Linked DNA regions of Homo sapiens. The protein of the gene in region 2 interacts with the protein of the main gene of each other region in a pairwise test. Each region holds a gene or a part of one and is shown on either strand. Other genes may lie near its edges. The genes, in order: ARHGEF10, KIF3B, CLCN5 and MAP3K11.

Region 1 (7,005 bases), on a different chromosome or scaffold from region 2:
CTTTTGTCTATGTTTTTCATGTTTTCAAGATTCATTGTTATTGAACATATCAGTTTCTTCCTTTTTATTACTGTATTATTAGTATTCTATTATTCTATGAAGATACAATACTTTATGAGTTCACCTGTTGATGGAATTTGGGTTGTTTCCAGTTGCGAAGTATTTGAACTGTTTTGAAGAAAGAATTCTTGTAAAAATCATTTTTTTTTTTTGAGACAGGGTCTTGCTCTGTCCACCCAGGCTAGAGTGCAGTGGTGGTGAACATGACTCATTACAGCCTTGACCTCCCAGCCTCAAGCGATCCTCCCACTTCAGCTTCCTAAGTAGCTGGGACTGGAGGTGGAGACTATCATGCTAGACTCCTGGGCTCAAGCAATCCTCCACCTTGGCCTCCTAAAGTGCTGGGGTTACAGGTGGGAGTCACCATGTCTGGCTGTAAAAGTCTTTTAAGGGACTTATGTTTTCACTTGCCTTGGGCAAACCTAAAAGTGGGATTGCTGAGAAATGGGCAAACAATTAATCAGAGTGGTTGCGCCATTTGCACTCTCATCGCCTTGTATAGTGGTTCCAGGGGCTCCACATTTTTACCCTTGCCATGTCGGTCTGCAGTTTCAGCCGTGCTTGGATGACGGTGGTGGCATCTCATTGTGAGTTTACTTTGGGTAACACTGAGCACTATTTCCTGTTCTTGTTGGCTATCAGTACATCTTTGGTGAAGTATTTACGTCTTTTGTTTATTTTTAAATAGACTTGTTATTGTTATTTACAGGCTTGTTATTGTTATATTGTTTTGTCCCTTTTGAAATAGACTTGTCTTGTTATTGTTCATTTGCAGGAGTTCTCTATTTACCAGGACTATGGTTTGAACGCGTTTTCCCCAAAGTTTATGTGTTGGAAACTTGACCCCCAATGCAGCAGTGTTGGAAGGTGCCTACTAGGTGGTGTCTGGGTCATGGGGGTATGACCCTCATGGATGGATAAATGCCATGACTGAGGCGGTGGGCTCCTTATAAAAGAATGAGTTTGGGTGAAACCTCGTCTCTACTAAAAATACAAAAATTAGCTGGGTGTGGTGGCACATACCTGTAATCCCAGCTACTCGGGAGGCTGAGGCAGAATAGCTTGAACCAGGGAGTCGGAGGTTGCAGTGAGCAGAGATCGCACCACTGCACTCCAGCCTGATGACAGAGCAAGACTCCGTCTCAAAAAAAAAAAAAAAAAAGATAAGTTTGGCCCATTTTGCATCCTCCCTCCCCACCTCCGCCTCCCACCTTCCGTCATGGGATGATGCAGCCCGAAGGTTCTTGCCAGATGTGGCTCCTTGATCTTGAACTTCCCAGCCTCCAGAACTGTGAGAAATAAATTTCTTTTCATTGTAAATCACCCATTCCCAGGTATTCTGTTACAGCAGCACAACGTGGATTAAGACAAGCCATTTGTGGGATATATGCATTGCCCCTGTGTTCTCCCAGTCTGTGGCTTGCCTTTTCATTTTCTTAATGATGTCATGAGATGAGTAGAAATATTAAATTTTGATAAGCCATTTAATCATTTTTAAATGGTCGGTCCATTTTCTGTCTTACCTGAAGATCCGTAAGATCTTTTCTTATATTTTATCCTAGCAACTTTATAATTTTTACACTTAAGTCTATGATCCATCTGAAATTCCTAAATTCTATTTTAATCCTAATAGTTTATTTGTAGATAATTTTGTTTTTTAACATATATAATCATATTGACTGTAAATAATCAGTTTTTCCTCCCTCAATCCTTACACTTTTTGTTTTTATGACCTACAACACTTGTTAGATGCTGCAGGACAATGCTGAATAGACTACGGAGAGTCAAAGATTTTCATACACCCTTATCAGTACAAGTAGATAAAAAGTACAAGTAGATAAAAAGTACAAGTAGATAAAAAAATCAGTAACAAATATGACCTAATTGACATCTGTAGAACTTTATGTCAGTGAAAGCATGTTCTCAGCAAGTGCTCATAGAACATTTACCAAAATAGACAATGTTGGGCCATGAAGCAAGTGTTTGAAAATCTTAAACGACAAAAATAAAACAGCTGATGTTTTAAGGCCCGGTGGAATTAAACTTTAGTTACAATAAAAAGAAAACCAGAAAGTCCCCATATATTTGAAAGGTGAACCTAACTTTTCTAAATATCCCATGGGTCAAAGAGGGAATCACAATGGAAAATCCCAACTCTTCCATATCCGGGCTTACGAAAATAGGGATGTATCTGTGAGGAACGCCTGAATAAAGCAGACAGACAGGATCTATTGGAGCTCCAAATCAGGGGATTTTCTGCCCAACCTGCCTGGAAGGCATTGCTCTGTGGCCCTACTCAGTGGTGTCCCTGGCGGCCCTGAGTTTAGGGGCTCAATTTCATCCATTGAGAAAATGAGTTGTTTATTCCATACACAGGACTATTTCCTCTTATCTCTACCTTTTTAGAAAACACTACAAGTATCAGGATTTTCTCATCGTATTTAGGTAAACAAGAACTAATTTAGTTGACCTTCTTACTTCTGTTGATCAAGACCATTGATCTGACCATTGATCTGTGCAGAAGATCTCTGAATAAGGTACCCAGAGAACCCTAGGAATAGAAACCTGAAATAAGTTTTCTAATCTTAAGGTCGCTGAGAGCAAATACCTTTTTCAATTGATTCATAAAAACAACTCAGTCTGATTTCATAAAATTAGCAAGTGTGAATAATAAACATTGAAAAAATATCACCTTACCTACGATTATTTTTTCCAGCCATTGTAGTCTTTCTATGTTGGCTATGATTTTTACATAGTCCAAAATTTTCAGGGAAATAACTTATTCCAGAGCACACAAGCCTTAAGGGCAGTTAATGTTTAGATTAATTTCGTGATACTTAGCATCCCAAATAGCTGTTTGTATTTCTTCTATAAAACAAGTGAAAGGGGCTAGAAATCTCTAAGAAGTCTGACAGTTCTAAAACACTGACTTAAAATTACTTCTATGATTCGGAGATTTGGGTAGGAGAAGGCATAGAAATAAATCTAGCATCTGCGAACACACTTGTTAAATGTGCTGACCAGGTAAAAGATAACATCCTTTAGTTATTTTGGTTAAAAATGTCTTTGTTTCTCGTTTTTTTTTTTCTTTAATAGTAATTATAACGATAATCTGTTTCCTTTTTAAAAGTATAAGACAAATAAATGCTCAAAGTAAACAATTCCAATAACTCAGAAGGGGCCATTCCCTGGAAAGGTCCCGGGAAAAACGAGCGCTTCCTGGCAAGAAGCAAGCTTCAAAAACTGCCTCGGAAACGTGGCTGAAGTCATCGCATTTCCAAACGCCCAAGCCTTGGCTGGTCCAGGGCAGCTGGCGCGGAAGACCCGGAACGCCCTGTGGGCAGGGCCAGCTGCGGACGGAGGGACGGGGGCTCAAGGGCGGGTCGGGTGGGGTCCCGACGCCCCCTCCTCGGCTGGGCGCACCCCGGGTGTCCGCAGGGAGGGGCGATGTTCTGGGGGGGGGAGCGTCTGCCCGACGCCCCCTCCCTCAGGTGAGCTCAGCCCGTGGGGGTCCGCAGAAAGGGCGGTGCTCTGGGAGAGGGTTAGGGTCTGCCCGGCGCACCCTCCCCAAGGGGCGCAGCTCTGAGCCGGGAGCAGGCTCTGCGGGGAGGATCCAGATGTTGGGGGCGGGGAGGGCACTCGGTCTGCCCAGCGACCCCTCCCGAAGTGAGCGCGGCCCGGGGTCCGCGGGGCAGGAGATGATCCGGGGGCGGGAGCCTCTGCCGCGCGCCCCCTCCCACGCGTGCGCAGCCTGGGCCGGGCGTTGGGCAGCGGGAGGGGGCGCGGGCGGCCACGTGGCCTCGAAGGAATGCGCGGGCGCGAGGGCAGGGCGCTGCCGAGAAACCGGCAGGCTCTGCGGCCAATGGGCGCCCGGAACGGTCTGGGCCCGCCAATGACAGCATGGTGGGTGGAGCAGGCCGTCCGGGCGGGAGGGGCTGGGCGCATCCCTGTAGCCGGCGGGCGCGCGATCCGGGACGGACGGGGTCGCGGGGGACGCGGGGGACGCGGGGGACGGCGGGGAACGGCGGGGGACGGCGGGGAACAGCGGGGGACGGCGGGGAACAGCGGGGGACGGCGGGGAACAGCAGGGGACTGCGGGTCGCGTCCTGGCCGCCGAGGTGAGTGCGGGCCCCGCGGACCGTGGGTCCCCTCGCGGGCTTCTGGTTTCCTTTGAGAGTTGCACTTCTGCCCGGCTCCCCCGAAATCGCTGGGTCCCACCCGGAGGTGGCTGCGCCCCCGACCCCCTGCGCAGATGTTTCAGGGAAGGGGCTGAGACCCCCTCCCCCCGAGCAGCTCCCCCTTCCGCGGCGCCCCCGGCCCCTCAGGATAACGGCGCGGGCCTGGGCGGGGGGAGCAGGGACTGGCAGCAGGGACCCCTGGCCCCAGGGGCAGGAGCGAACTCCGATCGGCGGAAGGAGCCCGAGGGGCGAGCTGGCTTCGCCTGGGGGGTCGTGCAGTAACTTAGATTTTCCGGTAAAGGAGAAGAATGCGGTCCGCCTCAGGATGCAGAGAAGGACCGGTGTAAGGAAAGCCGGCGTCTTTCCCCCGCACCCTACCTGTCCCCCTACCCCACCAGTTCCCCGCACCCCGTGTACCCCGCCTGTCCCTCAGCACCCCCTGTTCACTCTGCACTCCACCAGTTCCCCGCACCCCAGCTGTCCCCCCGCACCCCACCTGTTTACCCTGCACCCCAGCTGTCCCCCGCGCCGCAGCTGTCCCCCCCACACCCCACCTATTCCCCCGCACCCCGCCTGTCCCCCCGCACCCTACCTGTTTATTCTGCACCCCACCTGTCCCCTCGCACCCCACCTGTTCCCCCTGCACCCCACCTGTCTTCCCCACACCCCACCTGTTTACTCTGCACCCCAGCTGTCCCCCCACACCCCACCAGTTCCCCGCACCCCGTGTACCCCGCCTGTCCCTCAGCACCCCATGTTAACTCTGCACTCCACCAGTTCCCCGCACCCCACCTGTCCCCTCGCACCCCACCTGTCCTCCCCACACCCCACCTGTTTACTCTGCACCCCAGCTGTCCCCCCACACCCCACCTGTTCACCCGCACTCCACCTGTCCCCCCGCACTCCACCTGTCCCCCCGCACCCCACCTGTCCCCCCTGCACCTCACCTGTCCCCCCGCACCCCACCTGTCCCCCCGCACCCCACCTGTCCCCCCGCACTCCACCTGTCCCCCCGCACCCCACCTGTCCCCCCGCACCCCACCTGTCCCCCCGCACCCCACCTGTCCCCCGCACCCCACCTGTTCACCTGCACCCCACCTGTCCCCCCGCACCCCACCTGTCTCCCCGTACCCCACCTGTTCCCCCGCACCCCACCTGTCCTCGCACCCCACCTCTCTCCCTGAACCCCACCTGTCCCCTGCACCTCAACTGTCCTGCACCCCACCTGTCCCCCTGATCCCCACCTGTCCTCTGCACCTCACCTGTCCCCCTACACCTCACCTGTTTACCCTGCACCCCAGCTGTCCCTCGCACCCCAGCTGTCCCCCCCGTACTCCACCTGTTCCCCTGCACCCCACAGCCCGCTGGTGCCCAAGAAGCCAAGGTAGATTCTGAGGAAACTGCCCTAGGTCCACAGACGCCCTGCCCACCTGTCCCAGCCCCACTCCCCTTCCATGGGCCCCTGGGCACTGAAGGTGAGGTCTGAGTACCCCTCCCGACTGTGGCCAGTAGGTCATGTTCCCAGGCAGCAGTAGACGAACTTGCTGTTGTCTGATATTGATTCCAGTCACTAACTTTGGCTGCAAGTAAAAATTCTCATTGACTCAAGATGTAACGGGTTTTAATTCTTTTCTCTGGTTAACCATAACCTGAGTACGGACTGGTCAGTATTCTAGATTCTGTGCAGGAGTGACTTAATGTCCATATGGGTGGAATGCTGCAAGGAGGAACAATTTCACTGTTGCTGATTAATAATATGTTTTGAACACCTGCTTTATAGAAAATAATTTTTATTCGAAAAGAGAGATGATTACTGAGGTTTACACGTCATGTATTTTTAAAAACACACTTTGTCCCTGTCTGTCTCTCACAGCATTTATTTGCTGGCTTTAGCAGCCAACATCGGCAGTTACGGATGCATAACTCTTTATAGACAGATGAGACCTCCAGGATTTCTCAGCAGTAAGAAAAGTCATTTGTATAAGGTGCTATTTGTAATTCATTAGTTGTAGACAGTTGGGGGTGAAGTGAAGTTAAAAGTTATTCAGAATAGCTTTTTATGTTTTTAAAAGTTGATGCTTGACTTCCAGATGTAACCACATTTGTCTTCTGGGTGCTTTGGTGTGCTGCCTTTCCTCTGCAGTTTGTGTGTGCATACGTGTGCGTGTGTCTTTGTGTATGTGTTTGTGTTTGTATGCATGTGTGTGCGTTTGTGTGTGCGTGTGTTTGTGTGTGTGCTGTGTGTGTGTGCGCTTTGTGTGTGTGTGTGTGCGCGTGTGTGAGTTGTAGATAGAGGCGTTGGGTGGTGTGGAGGGTGTGGAGTTACAGACCTGGGTTGAGGTGGGGAAGCTTTTCCCTGGCCCTGTGAGTCCAGACTTCTCACGGGACTTGAGGGTGCTCACTTACGAAGTTGCTAGAAGGCGTTGTATGGGGAAGTGCTGCTTAAAACAAAGATGTTTGGCATAAATTAGAGCAAACTGGAAATGCGCTAATGACGGTTGTATTCTGTAAGCGATGTGAAAACGTCATAGTGAGATGTAAGAAAGCGCTGTTGTAGGCCCGTCATTGTTTACTGCACAGTGTGTGGCAGGAAGCATGCAAAGAACAGCTCGGATCTGGAGATGCTCAGAGAATCTGTGTTTCATGCGTGCGTTGCTTATAGTTTGCCTGGGTAGAAAGGTAAGTGGCGTGAAATAAGACAGAAGGGAAGCGTAGCTGTTAGTCATTCATGAGGGAGAACTTCAGCTCTCTCCCTTAACCAGGCTTT
Region 2 (7,696 bases):
TTTCATTCCCTGAGTCTCCTCCCCAAGATTCTGGGGCTCAGAAAGTCCTTTCTCTATTTTTCTACTGAAATAACTCTTTTCTGAGCAATAAATACCTCACAGTCCAGGTTAGATGGAAAAGAGGACACAGTATGGAAAGGAAATGCCAGGAGTGGAAACATACTTGGTAATATAGAAGTTACCCCATCATACTAGGGTGACCACTCATCCTAGTTTGCCTGGACTAAGGAGTTTCTTGGGACATGGAACTTTTGGTGCTAAAACAGGGACAGACCTGTGCAAACTAGAACAAGTTAGTCACCCTACAACTGTACAGCTACTACTACTAATCCCACTTCAATACACAGCTTTATTCAGCTTGCTAAGGACAGAATCAAGACCAGACCGTCATCAACAATGCCTTACCAAAGTTCTTTTTTCGGCCAGGTGCAGTGAGTGGGTCATGCCTGCAATCCCAGCACTTTGGGAGGCTGAGGCAGGTGGATCACTTGAGGTCAGGAATTCGAGACCAGCCTGGTCAACATGGCGAAACCCTGCCTCTACTGAAAAATACAAAAATGAGCCAGGCATGGTGGCACATGTCTGTAATCCCAGCTACTCAGGAGGCTGAGGCATGAGAATCACTTAAACCCGGGAGGTAGAGGTTGCAGTGAGCTGAGATTGCGCCACAGCACTCCAGCCTGGGCAACAGAGCAATATTCTGTCTCAAAAAAAAAAAAAGTTGTTTTAATTTTCATTTCTTTAATATGAGTAAGCATAAGTATCTTTCCTTTTCCTATGTTTAAAAGCAATATTTTCTATTCCTTTTCTCTGAACTATCTGTTCATACCTTTTACCTACCTGTTTAAAAAAATTTTTAAATAGTTTTTGTACATATTTATGGGGTACATGTGCAATTTTGTTACATGCATAGAATGTGTAATGATAAAGTCAGGGTATTTAGGTTATCTATCACCCAAGTATTTATCATTTCTATGTGTTGGGTACATTTCAGGTCTTCTAGCTGTTTTGAAGAACACAATACATTTTTGTTAAATAGCAGTAAACACATCCAGTTAAACATAGTGGATTGATGATGCGTATTTATTTTTTTCTCCCTCGAACCCCATCTATATGGCAATAAGGAATAAAAAATGTATTAACCCAGAACATGAATAGGAATGAAAAGGAGACATTAGTGGCCCAGGGATTTCAGCAAGTTTTTAGAAAACAGGGACAGAAGGGGAAGTAGTAACTGACTTAACAGGGGGAGGAAGTTATGACCCAAATGTCTGCAGGGAATATTGATTTGATGACTAAAAGGTGAGCCCAGATTCTTCCATAGAAGAGATAGACACTAAAAATAAAGATATGGATGGAAATCTCCCACAGAGTAGAACAAAAGAGCCAAAAAGAGGGACAATAAGAGAAAAACAGAGAAAATTAGAAACTCAGTTTGGAAAGTATAACTTCTGACTAAGAGAAATTCCAGAAAGAGAAAAAAATGGAGGGGAGAGCCAAGTCTGGTGTCTCATTCCTGTAGTCCCAACAGTTTGGGAGGCCGAGGCAGGGGGATTGCTTGAGCCCAGGAGTTTGAGACCAGCTGGGCAACACAGTGAGACCCCATTTCTACAAAAAATAGAAAAATTACTCAGGCATGGTGGTATGCACCTGTAGTCCTAGCTACTCGGGAGGCTGAGGTGGCAGGATCACTTGAAGCTGCAGTGAGCCATGATCATGCCACTGCATTCCAGCCTGTGCAACATAGCACAACACTGTTTCAGGGGAAAAAAAAATAGGAGGGGAGAAAATTATCGAAAAAATAATACAAGAAAATTTCCTAGATTAGAGGGATATAAGTCTCCAGATTGAAAAGGCCCAGCTAACACAAGTGAGGAAAAGCCTCACTGAGGGGAGTCATCATCAAATACAACATTATGGATAAAGATGATAGCCTAAAAGTTTTCAAAGATTAAAAATAAAAAAAGAACAAGACACATATAAAGCAACAGGATTAAGAATGGCATTAGATGTCTTAAATCTGGATACTAGAAACAATAATGCAATGTTTTAAAAATTCTGAGAGAAATAATTTTCAGCCTAGATTTCTTTTTTTTTTTTTTTTTTGAAATGGAGGCTCCCTCTGTCGCTCAGGCTGGAGTGCAGTGGTGCAATCTTGGCTTACTGCAACCTCTGCCTCCTGGGTTCAAGTGATTATCCTGCCTCAGCCTCCCCGAGTAGCTGGGACTACAGGCATGTGCCACCATGCCCAGCTAATGTTTTTTTTGTATTTTTAGTAGAGACAAGGTTTCAGCATGTTGGCCAGGCTGGTCTCAAACACTTGACCTCAGGTGATCTGCCTGCCTCGACCTCCCAAAGTGCTGGGATTACAGGCATAAGACATGGCGCCTGGCCTTCAGCCTAGATTTCTATACCCTGCTAAACTATTAATCAAGTGTGAAAACAGTATAAATGCATATTTAGACATACAAGGACTAAATATATTTGCTTCTTTGCAACCTTTCTCAGGAATCTACAGAAAGATGTGCTGCACAGAGATGACAGAGTAAATCCACAATCTAGAAGTTTGAGACACAAGGTCCAGGGCACAGGGAATCCCAACCAGGTGTAGGATATAGGAAAGTTCAGTATGACAGCTGTGCAGTAGGCCTGGAGAGCACTGGTCCAGATCAGAGCTGAAGCCTTCAGGAGAAAAAAACAAAAGAGAACTCATGAACTTTTTTTTTTTTTTTAAGTTGTTGTTGTTTTTGTGAGATGGAGTTTTGCTCTTGTCACCCAAGCTAGAGTGCAATAGGGTTATTTCGGGTCACTGCAACCTCCACCTCCTAGGTTCAAGCAATTCTCCTGCCTCAGCCTCCAAAGTAGTGGGGATTACAGGTGCCTGCCACCACTCCTGGCTGATTTTTGTATTTTTAGTAGAGACGTGGTTTCTCCATGTTGGCCAGGCTGGTCTTGAACTCCTGACCTCAGGGTGATCTGCCTGCCTCAGCCTCCCAAGGTGCTGGGATTATGGGCATGAGCCACCATGCCTAGCCGAATTGTTATGTTACACATCTGGAAAAATCACTGCTGATTATTTTGTCTAATTTATTAACCACATAGGAAAAAATTAACAATATCTGCAAAGAAAGCTAATGAAAGGGGGGAAAAAATGAGGCAATTATTAGCTTCAGGAAATACCAAAAGAGGCTGGGTGCAGTCTCTTTTGGTATTTCCTTTATTATTTTATTTAAAAATAAACTTCTTCACTGTAGAGAAAGTGTAAATCAAATTATGTGGGAGTTTTAATGGGCCAGGCCTGAGAATAGCACACATCACATTTAATTGGCCAGAACTTGGTCTGAACTGTAAGGAAGGCTGGGAAATACTGTCTAGTTGTGTGTCCAGGAGCAGGAAGAAATAACGTTTTTGAGAGGAAGTAGCAATATCTGCCACAACAGGCAAAAAGTAGTTGTAGGCAGATGAAGAAGACCATCTCAGGTATTCATTTATTCAAGGAGCAAAACATATTTGTTCAGCAACTACTATTGACTAAGCTTGGTTCCAGGCATGGTGGATACAAGAGTGAACAAATAAAAGACTGCTCTTATGCAGTTTCTATTTAGTGGGGAACAGCAGGTGTAAGTTCCATGGGGGTTGGAACCTGCCCTTCTAGGCCAGTGTGGTTGGAATAGAGTTTTAACGAATTTTGCAGGAAGTAATAAGGACTTCATATTTGATTCTAAGAGCAATGAGACTCCATTAAATCGAGTATTAATCAGAAAGTGGCATGATCTGTTTTATTTATTTATTTATTTATTTATTTATTTTAATCTTTATATCTGAGACGGAGTTTCGCTGTTGTCGCCCAGGCTGGAGTGCAGTGGTGCCATCTCTCTCACTGCAACCCCTGCCTCCCGGGTTCAAGCGATTCTCCTGCCTCAGCCTCCCGAGTAGCTGGGACTACAGGCATGCGCCACCACGCCCGGCTAATTTTTTGTATTTTTATTAGAGACGGGGTTTCGCCATGTTGGCCAAGCTGGTCTCGAACTCCTGACCTCAGGTGATTCACCTGCCTCAGCCTCCCAAAGTGCTGGGATTACAGCGGGAGCCACCGCACCTGGCCGCATGATCTGTTTTAAATAATTACTCTGGCCACCTTATGGAAAATGGATTGTTCGGACAGAGCTGGACAAAAGAATGGAAACAGACCAGATATTTCAGGCAGGCTAGAGATGAGCGTGGCCTGGCCTTGCCTGGGGCGGTTGTGACTGACTGGATTGGGTGAAGGACAGGAAAGCTACAACAAGGGTGCCTATAGGTGTTCGTATTGAGTCACTGGGGGCACCCTAAATGGGAGTTACCTCAGTAGCAGTTTGAGACACCAGTCAGATAATGGATGTGAAAGCTTTTAGAAAGGTTGAACGGCGGCTGAAATCGCGTGTGTTCCATTTACAGATGGGAAACTGAGGCACGAGATACCAGAGGATGGAGTCAGGCCACGTTGTGCGCCACTCTCCCCGCTTAGGTGGGTGAGGAGACCGAGGTGTGTTGGGCCCCCGCTAAACACCAGCACCGACCTGAGCCCCGCCCAGACCCCTCCAGCCGGCTTTCCCTGTCCTCTGCTCGTGTGCCAATAAAGTTATTGAAATTGACACCGGTTGCTAAGGAAGTGGGTCGCCGAGCCAGGTTGCTAAGGAAGTGAGCGGCCACTGTCTCTCCCCATCCGGGGCAGCGGGGAATGGCTGAGCCAGGGGTTCGCCGCCCCCGCCGCCGCCGCCGCCGCCGCCGCCGCCGCCGCCGCCCGCTTTCGGCTCGGGCCTCAGGTGAGTCGGAGGGGCCGGGCGCCCACCGAGCAGGGCTAATCCTGTGGCCGCCTGGGGTTTTCCCTGCGACCTGCGCCCGCGCCTCTGCCTGGCTTTGCTGTCCCGCGAGCCGGAGCATCCTCTGCCCTGCCTCCTAGGCATCCTTTGGTAGTCCGGACGGCCTTGCCCCTCCTTCCCCTGGCAGGGTCGCGGCCCGACCCCCAGACACGGCCACCTTGGGTCGCAGCCCACCTGGGGGCCCTGAGGCGGTGGTCAGGGCCCCAGTTTGGGAGGAGGGCGGGGAAGCGAGAGCCTGGGGTCCGAACCTCGGCGCTGTGCTGGGCTTGCTGTGTGACCTTGGGCAAGTCTTTTCACCTCCCTGGCCTTAGCTGACCTGTTTATTCAATGGGGTCCTAACATTGCTGCTCAGAGTGGTAAAGATAATGAGAAGTGTATGTGAAAGTGCCCTAAATGGGGAGAGGGAGAATTCTTAGGGCACCCTAGATGGGAGACCAAGAGGGCAGTTTGAAGTCTGAGCGAGTTAGAGACGTGGCATTTCCACTTAGTAACTGTGTGGCCCTGGGCAAGTTAATTTCTCTGAGTCTTCTTTTCCTTATCTGTGAAATGAGGTAATAGACTACTGTGGAAATCAGTGAGACTGGGTATGTCAAGTAGCTTGGCACATAGTAAGTGCTCAACCAGCTATTATGAGGCGTCCAGGGTAGGAGGGCAAGACTTCCAGGAGGAGATGACTTTGGGACAGGTAAGGTGTAGGTGTGTAGAGTGCCAGCTCATATGGGTAGTCCTACTGCAATGCCAACCCCCAACCCCGGTTTTACTTCTCCATTCTGCTCAGAGCAAGGGAGGTACTTCTACAAGTAGTCCTGGGAAACTCTTTGAGGTCAACCCCTTGTAGATAGCTGGGGTCATGGTCTCATTTTCTACCTGGGCTTCGTTGACCCTTCCAGAAGAAAAAAGGCATCTTTGTGTCCTTTGGGAAGTGCTTAAAGCAGTAATAACTATTTACAAGCATATGATTAAGAAGCACTTTACCAGGCATATTATTTCATTTAATCTTTATGTAGACTTTGCCAGGTGCCTGGTGATGTCATCCTCATTTTGCCGATGAGGAAACTGAGGTTCAGAAAAGTAAAGGGAAGGACCTGCTTAAGAATCCTTTTTTTTTTTTTTTTTTTTGAGACAGAGTCTTAGTCTGTTGCCCAGGCTGGAGTGCAGTGGCGCGATCTCAGCTCACTGCAACCTCCGCCTCGTGTGTTCAAGCGATTCTCCTGCCTCAGCCTCCCGAGTAGCTGGGACTACAGATGTTCACCACCTCGTCCACTAATTTTTGTAGTTTTAGTAGAGACAAGGTTTCACCATGTTGGCCTGGCTGGTCTCGAACTCCTGGCCTCAAGTGATATACCTGCCTCGGCCTCCCAAAGTGCTAGGATTACATGCGTGAGCCACCACACCCAGTCATTGCCTAAGAATCTTGTATCTATTAAGTGATGGAAGTGGACGTGTTTCTAGGTAAATCCTGTATTTTATCCCCCATTCACTGTTGCCTCTGATTTTGCAACAGTTGCTATTATAAGGCCACAGGGGTATTCTTTTGTTACTTTTAACTGGCTAGAAGTTAAAAGGCAAGGAAACAAGATCTCAGGTAAAGCTTTATTTAAATAGATACCACCCAAAGTGAGGATCTCAGAAAATAGTTGGAATCTTTTTTTTTTTTTTTGAGACGGAGTTTTGCTGTTGTTGCCCAGGCTGGAGTGCAATGGTGCCATCTCAGCTCACTGCAACCTCCGCCTCCCTGGTTCAAGCAGTTCTCCTGCCTCAGCCTCCCAAGTAGCTGGGATTACAGGCATGTGCCACCATGCCCGGCTAATTTTGTATTTTTAGTAGAGATGGGGTTTCTCCATGTTGGTCAGGCTGGTCTCAAACTCCCGACCTCAGGTGATCGCCTGCCTTGGCCTCCCAAAGGACTGGGATTACAGGCATGAGCCACTGTGCCCAGCCTGAGAGCTGGAATCTTTAAAAGAGGGCTTCTCTGTCCCTCATTCCCTCCTCATTAAAATGAGGGGACTAGGCTAGATTATACTGAAGGCCCTTTCAGTGCTGTTATGCAGTTGTGGTTAAAAGCTTGCAATCAGACTACCTGGACTAAAATCTTGGCTCTGCCACTTCCAAGCTGTGTGCTACTGAGCAAAGAGGTGCTACTTTACCTCTGAAATGATGCTCAGTACCTCTGAAATGATGAGAGGACTTTTTGGTAAGGGGCTCTGTGAGGAAGAATTATTCATAGTTCATTTTGAACCCCTTGGTGGTATAGTTTCCTCATCTGTAAAATGGGGATAGTAATAGGCCTTATTACCTGTGGCCTTATTATCATGTATGGCTGTTCTGAGGATTTATTTGAACTTAATATATGTGAAGTGCCCAGCATATTTGGTAAACATTAGCTATCGTTATTTGGGTTTAACGTGGTGCTTGTGCTGTATTTTCCGTGTATGGTTGGTGAAAGAATAAATTAAAGTATGTGATAATACCAGGTCCGTCAACCATAATGTCATTGCAAGCATGAAACAGTAGCCATCATGGCATTATATAAATGTTGATATTTTTATACAGTTGGCCCCAGGAACCTGTAATCATGTGCCACAATGGGTTGCAAAGAAAGGTAAAGCTGTCCAGGCATGGTGGCTCACGGCTGTAATCCCAGCACTTTGGGAGGCCAAGACGGGTGGATCACGAGGTCAGGAGATCGAGACCATCCTGGCTAGCACAGTGAAACCCCATCTCTACTAAAAGAAAAAAAAAATTAGCTGGGCATGGTGGCGGGCGCCTGTAGTCCCAGCTACTCGGGAGGCTGAGGCAGGAGAATGGCGTGAACCGGGGAGGTGGAACTTGCA
Region 3 (6,160 bases), on a different chromosome or scaffold from region 2:
AATCACACTCTGGGGACACTTGGTGGAATTACAGAGCCACCATCATCATTCCAACCACTATTTCATTTTCTGTAGTTTTACCTGTGTGCAATTACTCCCCCTCCATTCTGTTCCACTTCTTACTCCTTAGTACCAAATCCTCTGTTTGGGATTGAGCGCTGCTCCTGGTTAATCATTCCTACTACAAAAAAAAATAACTCCCAGGGCTAGTTAAATTGTAAACCAAGGCTCAGCAGTCTCACAACACATGGACCAGAGGTGACACACAGCCATTTCCTTTGCCATGTGGCCCAGTTGCTGCTGCCATGCCTCCATTTCCACACTGGATGCCTACGGCAGTGAGATTTCACTGCCGGGGTAAGAGTTCAGCCTGGATGATTTTATAGCTCTGTTCCTAGCACTTCTCATCATCCTTCCAGCCCAGAATCAGCGGTCATTCTGCATATTCCCACCAACCCTCTACCCCCAAACACTTCAGTGTACCTCATTTTAAGAGTTGCTGATCCCTGATTCTAGGACGTTTTTACCCATAGTTCTTGTCTTTCCAAAATCTGAAATTCTTTTTTTTGCTCAGAACTGGGTAGCCAAGGGTTATTTTATTTTTATCTTTAAAATAATCAAGGCAGTCGCTAGAGTTTCTCCTTGTGAATAGATCACTCTAGCATTTTAATGAAAAAGAAAAAAATCTTTCTGGGGTATGTTGTATCATAGTAATGGCTCAGTAACCACATATTTTGTCCTTTCCATGTCACTGATTCCTTCATATGAGACTATTTGGCTTGACTACCCTGTATATTGTGTAGAAATCAAAGTTCTTATCTGTACATTTCTGGTCCAATACCTGTCTTATTAGTTGTCCTTCCCCACTAAAGTTTGCAAAACAGAAAATGTTACTATTTCTGGTATTTAATGACAATGAAAGGTTTGGTCATATTTCATAGTGCAGTAGCGATAAGGAGGGTGTCTCAAGTTTGCTTTTGTGTTTCTTCTAGGCTTTGTTCTTGATTTTAGACAGATGAGCCAGTGTTAAGGTGCTACTTCAGAGAATAAATTAGAGAAATCAGATAACACTGTGCCAAGGTATACTTTGTAGATGCTAAGCACCGATTGGCCCTCCAGAGAATGACAATATCCCTTTGATACCTCACTCCTGATCAATCTCATTCATTAACCTCAGCTTCTCAGGAATCCTTGTAGCTTGTATGCTAGAAGTAGCTATGGTATATGGTATCCACTATATGTCCAGTCCTATGGTTTGGCTCAAAGGTTGGCTAATTGCAGCTAGAGCTCTCAACTGCTAGCTCAGCACCTTGACATTTGAAGTTTCTTGTCTTGAGGAGAAGGAAAATGTTCTTTCTGCCATTGCCACTTTAACAGTTGGACATGCTTAAGCAACAAATACAGCCAGTATAGGGAGGACTGTCAGTAGCATCAAATGGCCACATACCTCAATGGCAAAAGACTAGATGGTTTGTGATTTAAAAATTAATGAGTCGAGATGAGACTATTTTGGTATTAAATGAGAAAATTGCCTAACACAAGGGAAGGGTTTACAAAAGAATGCCAATTAGTGTTTCAACAGAGTTAGGATTTTCCAAGTAAGAGTAGCTGGTAGCCATCCAGCCATAAAAGGAACGAGAGTCTATAGATTTGTAAAAGTAAAACTGCTATATTTTGTATCTTCAAATCTTCAATATAAAGAATTTAAAGAACCTGAAACAGTTAATGCATGATTCGTTATATTGGAGGGAAAAAGCAGGGGACTGATAATACAAAATAATGGCAACTTTAAAGATCATTTCTACGTGGATGTTTGGTTAGAAACATATTCCAATGCTCTCCTCTTTCTCTGGCCACAGCATCCTGGCTCAGCCCAGCTGTGGAGTAGAGGTGGTAAGATCCACAGAACAGATATCCTCTGGTAGATAAGCTGACATTGATGATACTTTGAATTTACCAGCTGGTGAAGCAAACGATTAATTTGTGATTGAACTGAAAAGCAGTTGAATTGTTTTGACACCAGAGGCTGAATCTAAACCCTTTACAGGAAGAGCAGAGCATACTATACATTTCTTAGCAGATCTTCAATTCTGTTTGAACATGATGAAGTAACCAGGGTTTAGTGAGATCTAAGGCCGTGAAGTAATTCACAACCAAGATCTTATGAACGCATTCAGATGTGAGGGGGGCAAATATGTTTTCAAAAACTTAGTGTGCAATAGAGTCCATTATAGAAATTAACCACTGCTATATGTTTTAAGTAGTTCAATCACCTGTTGTGGTTCAGTCTTGATTATTGTTTATTTTGTTAGGTGATAAGTAGGAAGATGCACTTGTTATCCCACACTATCTCTTGTTTTGTTTTGTTTTGTTTTTAAATAATGAACAGTGCAATCTTTGAACTTGAGTTTTTAATAATGATAGCAAAGACAATGGTGAGAACTTGAAACAGCCAGCATATTTTATATTGCCAAAGTACTTACTGATGACTGACCACACTGTCTTGTGAGGAACTGGGTCCCCTGCACTGGATCAGAGCCAAATGCAAGCCACCCATCAGTTCAGAGGAAGCAGGAAAACATCTTTTGGGTGGTGCATAGAACATTGAGCTCTTAAAAACCCGGAGAAAAATTAGGAATTTAGAAAGTAAGTGGGAGGTAGAATATTGAGTCCTTTTTTAAAAAAAAGAATTGATGTCTAAATATGTAGTCTGAACTTAAGTGTCCTAAAACCTTGTTTTTTGTTTTTTTGTTTTTTGAGGAGTCGTCTTGCTCTATCACCAGGTGGGAGTGCAGTGGCACAATCTCGGCTCACTGTAACCTCTGCCTCCTGCCTCCCGGGTCCAAGCAATTCCCCTGCCTCAGTCTCCCAAGTAGGTGGGACTACAGGCGCACACCACCATGCCCAGCTAACTTTTGTATTTTTAGTAGAGACGGGGTTTCACCATGTTGGCCAGGATGGTCTCGATCTCTTGACCTCGTGATCCACCCATCTCGGCCTCCCAAAGTGCTGGGATTATAGGTGTGAGCCACCGCACCCAGCCAAACCTTGATTTTTTTAGCCACCTCTGGGATTGCCTGGGTTCCCTTTGGAGAAGAAACTAAAAGTTATGGCCATAGAAAAAGCCCTGGTAAGAAAATATTTGAATGGTGTAAGATGGTGGAAGGAAAGCCATCCCACACCCCTACAACATATGTTCTGGCATTTATAAACTGCTTGATTGTGTGCCTCAAGGGGAGAAAAAGTCAAGCAATGCTTCAAAGGCCAGGCTTTCTAAGCAAATGAGTGGTTCAAAGCAGTGTTTGGCTCAAGGGCAGTCTGGTTTTATGGATAGGGCCGACCCAAGACATCTGCTCATGAAGAAATGTGGCATCTGTTGCCATTTCCTAAACTATAAGGTTTAGATAGATTGTCTTGAATTTTGATAGCAAATTTTTTTAAATTTATATTTCTGCCTCCTCGTACATCCTTATATATGGAAAAAAAAGTAAGAGTTCCTCAGATCAGAGCTCAGTAGCTGTGTCAATTTGAAGTTCAATCAGTGTAGTTGTCCTGGGGTGATCGCTGACTCTGCTCTGTTTCATATTTCAGTTGCTTGCTCCAAGGAGAGAATTTCTGAGAACAATGGGTGTTAGCAACTTTAAGTTACTCCCCAAACGTTTGCTGGCCACATTCTCATTTCTAAACATCTGGATCTGGGTAAAGGTTTGAATAGATGTAGGGAACAAAATTGGTTTTTCCATGGTGTAGTCTAATTTTGCCAAATCACCCAAGAAAGAAAGTATATGACGTGTGGAGTTTGCATTTCTTGGATGGGACCTATCGGGTCACCCAGCCCAGTCTTACAGTCATAAATTCCTACCTCTTAGTTCCTGCCAAAGGGCCTTCAGCCTCTGTGTGCACACTTATTGAATGAATGCTTTGCCTAAAGTTTGGCCTTTTGAAGAAAAACAGCATGTGATAATATAAAAATATGAGAGTTTAAAAAAAAAAAAGATCTCTGCCTCTCTTCTCTCTGCCTCGTCCCACCTTGCTGTCTGTCTCATTGTCTTTCTCTCCCCTCACCATGCGCTGAATTCAGATTTCTCTTTCTTTTATTATAGGCATGTTGTTTTGAATGTGGACTTTGTGGGAGGGAGAGGATTGTTCTGAGAACAGAAACTGGAAGATACGTCTGAGTTGATGGGACCAACAGGGCTTTGCTCCTCTGTGAGGGCCAAAGCCATTGATACTTGTCGGGGGTGATGAGGGCTTTAGCATCTCAAGGCAGACATATGAAGTATTTACTGCTAAACTATATTACTTACTAGTACAAATCTGTTGGAATTCAGGGGCAGTCTAAGATTTGGTGAGTGAAATGCCATCTGGCAAAATCGAGAAGAGAGTGTGGCCTGAGAGGGGAATGTTCAGCCTCACTGTCACATTAAGGGTACCTCAAAATACATGGTCCTTCCAGTGTGTTCCTTTTCCTTCCTCCATTTCACTTTGTCCCCTCTTCTTCCTTTCTCTCCCATTTTCCTGGCTTTTTAGCACTCAGCTTTTTTTTATAAGTATGTATTTACTTTTTATTATATATTTGGTCCTTTGGGACTTTGTGATGATTAAGAATTTATTCCATTCAGGATTTTAAAATGATGTGTTTAATATTTTGTTCTCTTAAACTCTTTTGAAGCTATGCTGCTAACCAGGTATAGGCCAGAAAGGAGGTGGCCCAGTCAGTACCTTGCTCACGTCAGCTAAGGGGGACAGTGATGTCATGTGGGTGACTCTTCTTCATTTGACCAAGGCCAGCCTCCTGTTCTTACCTCTGCCCATTCATTTCTGGCTATGGGAAAACTACCACCTGTTGAGTGAGCCAATGAGGCCAGGAAGATCAGAGGGGCTGGGTTCCGGCCCATGGGCCACTATTTGAATTTCTCTGTAGTAAGCTCTTTGTAGGGCTGGCTCCAACTGCAGTAGCCAAAGAAAACCTGTCTGACTCGACATTTTAATGCCTGAGAGTTGGTGAAAGTTCAGCTGAAGCTAATGTCTAGACATCAGCAGTAACTAGGCATCCAGAAAGTAGCTTCAACCAAAGCTAATAGAGCCCAAGTTTCCGCAGGAAGTTTGGTGCTGAGCTGTCCAGAGCAGTTGTTTATCTGAGTGTTGCTAGCCCTTAGCCATGCTTTCTTAGCTTTATTCTCGCCTGTTCCTAGGCATAGCCTGAACCAGAGCTATGGCTCACTGCTCGCTTTATTCTACTCCCTAGTCATGCGGAACAACATAGTCTAAAAAGGAAGATGTGGACTGGGGAGTTAGGAGACCTGATTTCTATTCCCTATGCTTCTACTAACTAGCCTCGAGATCTTAACCGCTCTGTGCCTCAGTGTTCCCATCTGCAAAATGGGGATAGTGTTAATTGCCCTACCTACCTCACAGGGTTGTTGTGAGGATAAACTGAGACAATGAATTCAAAGCAAGTTGACAAGTAAGTGCTATGCAAATTGTAAGAAATGGAAACAATCATGTTAAAAGCAATGGAATGGACATTGGCAGAAGGGTTAATGGATTGTCCAGCCCTTTCTCTGTGTGGCTTAAACCCAGGTCGCCATTGCTTTATACATTTTCACTTAGCACAGATTTGTAATTATGCATGTAATAAAGCACAGCCTTATCCACCCTGGTGTCTGGTGTGTTTCTAAAGACCCTAAACTTGGTAGCTATTGATTTCTGATCAGAAAACCACAGGGGCAGAGTGGAAGGTTCAGGGGAGGGTAGCACAAAACACAACTGCAAACCCCTACTGGCAGGCCCACTGCTTAAAAAGATTTATTAAATAGTTATTTTCACATTTACAGACTCAGTAATACTCTTTACCATAAGGAGGCAAATAAGAGGCAGCTTGCGTTTTTGGAGATGTTCCAGATACCCGGATACCTCATTCATTGTGGCTACTTAAATGTTCCTGTCTCATACATTGGTGATACTTTCCTGATGATGTGAGAATTGGCTGGGAGCTGTATTTTTCTCTCTCTTTGAGCTCTTAATGATGTAAGGTCGTGGGCTTTGACAGGCCTCTTGCCTACAGCTACTTTGTACAAGGAGGAGGATGGGTAATCAAAACGGTCCTCCCATGAATACTAGGATTCTTAGTACCCTCTTTATGGTGTATTGGGATTAA
Region 4 (7,025 bases), on a different chromosome or scaffold from region 2:
TCCCCAAAAGGACTCCCCCTCCCAAGTGGGAGACCTGGCCCAGGCCTCCCAGAAAGGAGAAGTAGGGACCACGGGAGGAAAGCGGAAGAGGTGTGAGCTGCCCAGGCCACTCCCAAGCCCCACAGAGGCCAGCCCAGGGAGGGAGCTGGTGGCCAGGTCCCTATCAGAGGCCAGGGAGCCCTAAAGGGGCACTGAGAGCTTCCCCCAGTTTCGGGGTCTCTGGCCCATTCTCCTCTGGGTGACCCCTGACCTCCCATGCCTGGGATCTACATCAGACACCAGAACAGCAGTTCGAGTTGGGACAGTTGAAAGCACAGAGAGGAGCTTGGAGAGAAAGCAGAGGATGGGGCTTAGCAGCTGGCAGAGCCAGGAGCGGGGAGGTAGCAGAAAGACCACAAGTACAAAGAAGTCCTGAAACTTTGGGTGAGTTGTTGCCCCTCTCTGGGCCTCAGATTCCCCACCTGAAAAAGGTGGAGAGTGGCCACCCGGCCTGAGATACTGGAACAGCACTTTGCCAGTCTGGGGTGCCACAAGTGGCTAGAGACAGGCCAAGAAGCAGCAAGTGTTGGTCTTCAAAGGGGAAGGTGGGCCCTGGCACCAGGGGAGGTGCCCATTTCCACTCCACCCACTGCCCCAGCCTGCTGTGTTTCCCCTTTGGAATGAGCTTGTCGTCGGGGGCTTGCTAAATGCTCAGGTCCCCGCCTCCAGCAGCCAGACCAGAGGCTGTTTTGAAGTTGGCAGTAAGGAGTGACAGAGGAGGGAGAGGAGGGCGGAGATACGATAAGTGCTTTAGGACAACTGGCCTTTAGGATGCTTCTGCCAGGTGGCAGCCCCCATGCAAAAACTTTAAAAGTGTGGTCTTGTTTCATGCTCGTGACAGCCATCTGAGGAGGGTTTTGTTGTCATCCTCAGCTTGATGAAGTGTTCAGGACTCAGCTCCAAGGTCTGGCTCAGAGGAGTGGGTAGATTTTGAGACCATTCTCTGGATTAGGAAAAATTGCAGGAAAATCTACTGGGCATGCCGGGATAGTAAAGGTGGTCATGGAGGGCACCTGGACATCAGGTAGAGCTGCTGAACCAATTTGTCTGGCCTGGAGTTGCAAATGTGGAAGATGCCAGTGGGGAGAGGGAGCTGGTACCTGGAAGAGGCTGAGTCAGCCAGGGGCAGTGGGCAGAGGTTGAGGAGAGGTCATGCTCTGAGAAGCACCAGCGCCGAAATGGCTGAAGGTGGAGGACACAGAAACAGAGCCAAGCAGCCAGGGGCTGTGGGGGCTGAGGACGGTGGGGCAGCGGGGACAGCTGGCAGCAGTGCCAGATGCCTCCTCAAGGCCCAGGTGGCCTGGCCAGCAGCAGGATCAGGGCTTGTTGCTTTAAGCCCTGAAAAATGAGCACCCTGGTTCTGCCACCTCCTCTGGGAAGTCTTCCCTGACTCACCAGGCTGTATTAGGTGCCCTTCCCATCTGCCCCACCCCCTGTGCCCTATGCTGCCCCCATGACAGCCGTGTCACACAGGGCAGGAGAGCTGAGAGGTGTGCCCTGACATGGGTCCAGAAACATGGTTGACTTGATATTGCTTCTCTTCCACAGTGCAGTTGGCTGTAACCTGAAAAGTAGAGGGGCCCTTCAGACCCTTCATGACTCTATGACTTTGTCCTCTTTCTATTCCTCGAAAACTTCTCTCATTTGAGCCATTCCTGTCCTGGTGAGAGATATGCAAGTTGCTGCTTCTCCTCTTTGTACCAAGTACGGTGGCCCCATTTGGGTTAAAGCCATGAGCCCCTGCCAAGTCTGACCATCCACGCCTACATTTACCCCAAGCTCCTCCTTTGTGGCCAAGAACCATCACTTTCTTGGACCCCACCCTTTCTCTTCCCTTCCAGCTGCATTGGTAGGTATCTTTTGGAGTCTTTGCTTTGGGAGTGGCTGCACTTGCCACAGTGTGATGTGGGCACTAGGGGCCTGTGGTACCTGCTGGGCTTCTTTTCTCACCAAGAGCTTCCCTCTTGCTCCCCACTCTAAGGGGGGTTCTGATTCACGCTCCTGCCTCAACAAAATGACAGGAGACTCACAGATCTCTCTTGAAATCAAAGCCATAAATGTCCAGAGCTGCCACCTTGCCAGTTTTGCTTCAGTGTAATATTAGGGAAAAGCTAGAACACTGGTTTCAGAGCCACACAGACCAGGTTGTAATCTCTGCTGTATTTGTTGTATGACCTCTGCCAAGTCATTTCCCTGCTTGGTTTCCTCATCTGTGAAACATGAAAAATATTATTTAGCTCATAAATGGTTTTGAGTGCTGGGGTTGAGTGTGAAATGTTTGGCCTCGGCCAGGTGCAGTGGCCTGTAATCCCAGCACTTTGGGAGGCCGAGGCGGGCAGATCACCTGAGGTTGGGAGTTCGAGACCAGCCTGACCAACATGGAGAAACCCTGTCTCTACTAAAAATGCAAAATTAGTCGGGCGTGGTGGCACATGCCCATAATCCCACTACTCGGGAGGCTGGGGCAGGACAATCGCTTGAACCCAGGAGGTGGAGGTTGCAGTGAGCCAAGATCACGCCATTGCACTCCAGCCTGGGCAACAAGAGCAAAACTCTATCTTAAGAAAAAAAAAAAAGGAAAAGAAAAGAAATGTCTGACCTCAAGTAGGTCCTCAAGATCTAGACCAAGTCACCTCTGTGCCCCCAGGACCCAGCCAGGATGTCCGTCAGATGAGTTTGCTCCCAGCTCTTACCCTGTCCCCACCACCTGATCCTGGAGCATCCACAATCTGGCCCCTCTTCTCTAGTTTTGCTGCTGCAGCCCATTGAGAGTGACGACATGGAGCACAAGACCCTGAAGATCACCGACTTTGGCCTGGCCCGAGAGTGGCACAAAACCACACAAATGAGTGCCGCGGGCACCTACGCCTGGATGGCTCCTGAGGTTATCAAGGCCTCCACCTTCTCTAAGGGCAGTGACGTCTGGAGGTGCGGCCCTTGGTGGGGCTGGACGGGCTGCTACGGGGCTGCAGAGGGCAGAGGTGGCTGCCTAAATCTAGGGCTGGGCCAAGTCCAGGGACAGGGACCCAAACCACTTGGCTCCTAGTTGCTTTTGGGTGAAGTGGCAGTAAGGGGGTGGGGGTTGGGAGAGAAAAGGGAACACAGACCTGTTGTCTCGCCCACAGTTTTGGGGTGCTGCTGTGGGAACTGCTGACCGGGGAGGTGCCATACCGTGGCATTGACTGCCTTGCTGTGGCCTATGGCGTAGCTGTTAACAAGCTCACACTGCCCATCCCATCCACCTGCCCCGAGCCCTTCGCACAGCTTATGGCCGGTAAGAGGACGGGGAGGGCAGGTGAGGTACAGAGCTCCCTGGCCCAGGACACATCCACCCACGGACCCCTTCTTATTCTGTCCCCGCTGCACGCCGTGCCCCTAGACTGCTGGGCGCAGGACCCCCACCGCAGGCCCGACTTCGCCTCCATCCTGCAGCAGTTGGAGGCGCTGGAGGCACAGGTCCTACGGGAAATGCCGCGGGACTCCTTCCATTCCATGCAGGAAGGCTGGAAGCGCGAGATCCAGGGTCTCTTCGACGAGCTGCGAGCCAAGGAAAAGGTGCGAGGAATCAAGGGACCCAGCGTTGGAACGAGTGTCTCCCCGATCTCCCTGGGGCAGAGTCGGGGCGGGCGCTGCCGGGATTGGTGCCAGGCTGACCTCTCCACCATCGCTGTCTCGGGCGCAGGAACTACTGAGCCGCGAGGAGGAGCTGACGCGAGCGGCGCGCGAGCAGCGGTCACAGGCGGAGCAGCTGCGGCGGCGCGAGCACCTGCTGGCCCAGTGGGAGCTAGAGGTGTTCGAGCGCGAGCTGACGCTGCTGCTGCAGCAGGTGGACCGCGAGCGACCGCACGTGCGCCGCCGCCGCGGGACATTCAAGCGCAGCAAGCTCCGGGCGCGCGACGGCGGCGAGCGTATCAGCATGCCACTCGGTGAGGGCCGGGCCCCGGGGCGTCCCCCGCCATTGGCTGCGGGGGTGGGGGTGGAGCCAGGCCTGTGTGCTCACCGCGCTGGGATTGGTTTAGGGTGTTGTGGGTGGGCCCGTGAGATGAAGGCTGGGAGGGGTGGAGCCAGGAGTGTTTTTTTTCTGTCTGTGGGCGGGTTCTGGCGGAAGTATTTGCATGTCGGTCTGGGAGTGGGAAGGGGTGGGGTTCACGAAAGTTCTGGGAAGGTCTAGTGGGCGGGGCCGGCCGGCGCCAGGGCATCTCCGACTCAGACGAGTAGCTTTCCTTATCCAGACCCAGGGGCTCAAGAAAGCAGTGAGGCTGGTCACAGTCTCACAGCCATCGTGCCGCTCCCTATGTGGCCTGGGAGCTGGCCTTGGGCCCCTGCAGGTTGGGGTCCTGGCTCTACTTCATCACAAACCTGAACCCTGCTCCCCCCAACCCAAATCCCAGACTTCAAGCACCGCATCACCGTGCAGGCCTCACCCGGCCTTGACCGGAGGAGAAACGTCTTCGAGGTCGGGCCTGGGGATTCGCCCACCTTTCCCCGGTTCCGAGCCATCCAGTGTAAGAAACTTCACCTCTCATGCCCCTCTCCGCCCCCCAGCTCCTTATTCTCTGTCAGACCTTATTCTTGGAGGCGGAGCCCACTCACTATCCCCTCTTCCTCCCCGCCCCCAGGCTCCCTGCCTTAGGTCTAGCCTGTTACCTCTGAACTCCCCAAGCAGCATTAATTTTACTTATTTTTTTTTAGTCAAATAATTGTATGACACTATGTACTACTAATTTTCTAAATGCTTTGCTAATATTAATTTCTTGCAATAATTCTATTTGGTAGTTATTTTTGTTGTTAATTTAAGTTTTATGGATGAGAAAAGTGAAAAAAGTAACTTGTTACACAGTTAATAAGTGGAAGAGCCAGAATCAAACTCAGGCAGTTGGTGTCAGTGTCTGTACTAATTACTAAGCAGCAAACTTCAGCCCAAGGGCTAGATGAGATGCCCCACCCCACTGTTGGCCCCAAGACCCAAACCCATCTATCTTGCCCAAAGCTCACCCTGGGAATGGTACAGGGCCCAGCCTGCTCCCCATACTCTAAAGTTTATCTCTGAAGCCTGACTGTGATGATGGAGGGAGAATAAAGATTATCTCCGATTTCATCGGTTTCCCCTGCAGTGGAGCCTGCAGAGCCAGGCCAGGCATGGGGCCGCCAGTCCCCCCGACGTCTGGAGGACTCAAGCAATGGAGAGCGGCGAGCATGCTGGGCTTGGGGTCCCAGTTCCCCCAAGCCTGGGGAAGCCCAGAATGGGAGGTGAGTACCTGAGTGCCCCCCAGACCCAGCATCATTTGCTTTCCCCAAGTCCTGAAATTCCTAAAGCACCCCTCCTTGCCCTCCCATCACCAGGAGAAGGTCCCGCATGGACGAAGCCACATGGTACCTGGATTCAGATGACTCATCCCCCTTAGGATCTCCTTCCACACCCCCAGCACTCAATGGTGAGTGGCCTTCCTCCCCCGGCAGGATCTGGCTGAGCTCCTTCCGTGGGCACCTTGGGGAGGCCACAATAGGCTAGTAGGCAAAGCAGGAGTCCTGCCCTGGTTGCTCTCATTCTAGAGACTAGGAAACCAAGGCTGAGACAAGACAGAGCCGATCCTGGAACCCAGGTCTGACCTACAGGCCCACGATCAAGCGGCATACAGCCCAGGCCTCGGCTCGGGGCCCAGAGTCTCATCCCCTTGCTCAGACCTGGCCTGCAAGAAGCCTCTTCCCTGGCCCCATGGCAGCCCCTGTGCCTTTAGCAGGCTCCAGGGAGAAAAGAAAGACAGGAAGCCCACCTGGCATTTGGTACCCAAGGGAAGCTGGACCCAGATGGGGGAAGGAATCAGCCTGTGTGGGGTGGAGCCAAACAAGTGTCAGCCACACTGTGCTTCTCAGAGCCCCTTCTGGGAGCCTGTAGGTGAAGAAGAGAATGAGAAGGCCGAGCAGGCAGGATCCAGGACCCATTCTCACCACATCCAGGATAGCTCGGGGCCTTTCTGTTCTCCATGACGGTAACTGCCCTACTGTGCCAGGCATTCCCTCCAAGCATTGATGAAGAGGGGCTACTATTACCCCATTTTGCAGATAAGGAAACTGAGGCTCTGAGAGGTGAAGTAACCTACCTCAAACCCCCAGCTGAGGATTTGAACCCAGAGAGGCTTCAGCTCCAATGCTCTCGTAGTGAGCTCAGAAGCTTTCACTTGAAGAAAGGGCTTCTCACGTATAGACTGCTTAGGAAGCCAGAGGGTCAGGCAGAAGGCAGGGCTCCAGCATTGCAGGGAGGAGGGCTCACTCAGCTCAACACTGCCCAGCTCTGAGTGAGGCCAGAGAGTTATGGCCTCCCTTGCCTGTGGGTCCCTGTGCCAACCTAGGGACCATCCTCAGAGCCCCCACACCTGCTGCTCACAGCCAGAATGTAGGACCCGCTTAGCTGCTCTCAGAAGAGTCCTGTTCAGCAAGCCGTTTAAACTCACTCCTCCCATCCCACCCAGCCCATCGCCTCTTCCATTCCCTGAGCTACACTTGATAGTTGTAACAACAGCTAACCTTTGTTGGTTCTCTTCTATGTGCCAAGCAGTTCTGTGAGGGGAGTAGTAGTATTGGCCTGCATTTTACAACAGAGAAAACTGAGGCACAGAGAGATTAAGTGGTTTGATGTAAGGCAACCAGTAGAGCAGGGATTTGATCTGCTCTTGCCTGTCTGACCACAGAGGCAGAGCCCTGGGCCTCCATCTGCCCCGCCATTTGCTACTCCAGCAGCTGCACTGCCCCCAGCATCTGTCCTGCAGGGACTGAACTGAGAGCTGGAAGGCCAAGGAGGCTTCTTGAATTCACTTGCTCTAAATTGTACCAGGCCAGATGGGCCAAAGGAGAACTTGAGAGCCTGTCAACCCAGGTGTGTAGGCTGAAGCAGGTCCTGACTGTTCCACAGAACTCTCTGGCCCTCAGCTCCCAGAAGCAGGGGCACAAGGGGCCTGGGCCCCATCGTTCTCAAGCTTGCCCCATGT

The links.
Region 1: the proteins of KIF3B (region 2) and ARHGEF10 interact in binary tests that used the Homo sapiens proteins (3 or more experiments, as listed by UniProt).
Region 3: the proteins of KIF3B (region 2) and CLCN5 interact in binary tests that used the Homo sapiens proteins (3 or more experiments, as listed by UniProt).
Region 4: the proteins of KIF3B (region 2) and MAP3K11 interact in a two-hybrid assay, tested with the Homo sapiens proteins (one study listed by BioGRID).

The regions. Positions count from the first base shown.
Region 1 is NC_000008.11:1,819,936-1,826,940, forward strand, and holds the start of ARHGEF10 (rho guanine nucleotide exchange factor 10), read left to right. Parts: upstream 1-3,990; 5' UTR 3,991-4,178; intron 4,179-6,111; exon of another isoform or gene 6,112-6,175; coding exon of another isoform or gene 6,176-6,200; intron 6,201-7,005. UniProt on the Homo sapiens protein: May play a role in developmental myelination of peripheral nerves.
Region 2 is NC_000020.11:32,272,961-32,280,656, forward strand, and holds the start of KIF3B (kinesin-like protein KIF3B), read left to right. Parts: upstream 1-4,690; 5' UTR 4,691-4,805; intron 4,806-5,157; exon of another isoform or gene 5,158-7,696. UniProt on the Homo sapiens protein: Microtubule-based molecular motor that transport intracellular cargos, such as vesicles, organelles and protein complexes. Uses ATP hydrolysis to generate force to bind and move along the microtubule. Plays a role in cilia formation.
Region 3 is NC_000023.11:50,093,574-50,099,733, forward strand, and holds the end of CLCN5 (H(+)/Cl(-) exchange transporter 5), read left to right. Parts: 3' UTR 1-5,657; downstream 5,658-6,160. UniProt on the Homo sapiens protein: Proton-coupled chloride transporter. Functions as antiport system and exchanges chloride ions against protons. Important for normal acidification of the endosome lumen. May play an important role in renal tubular function.
Region 4 is NC_000011.10:65,604,210-65,611,234, reverse strand, and holds part of MAP3K11 (mitogen-activated protein kinase kinase kinase 11), read left to right. Parts: intron 1-2,786; coding exon 2,787-2,967; intron 2,968-3,164; coding exon 3,165-3,313; intron 3,314-3,418; coding exon 3,419-3,594; intron 3,595-3,721; coding exon 3,722-3,965; intron 3,966-4,430; coding exon 4,431-4,544; intron 4,545-5,153; coding exon 5,154-5,289; intron 5,290-5,382; coding exon 5,383-5,474; intron 5,475-5,592; coding exon of another isoform or gene 5,593-5,642; intron 5,643-7,025. UniProt on the Homo sapiens protein: Activates the JUN N-terminal pathway. Required for serum-stimulated cell proliferation and for mitogen and cytokine activation of MAPK14 (p38), MAPK3 (ERK) and MAPK8 (JNK1) through phosphorylation and activation of MAP2K4/MKK4 and MAP2K7/MKK7.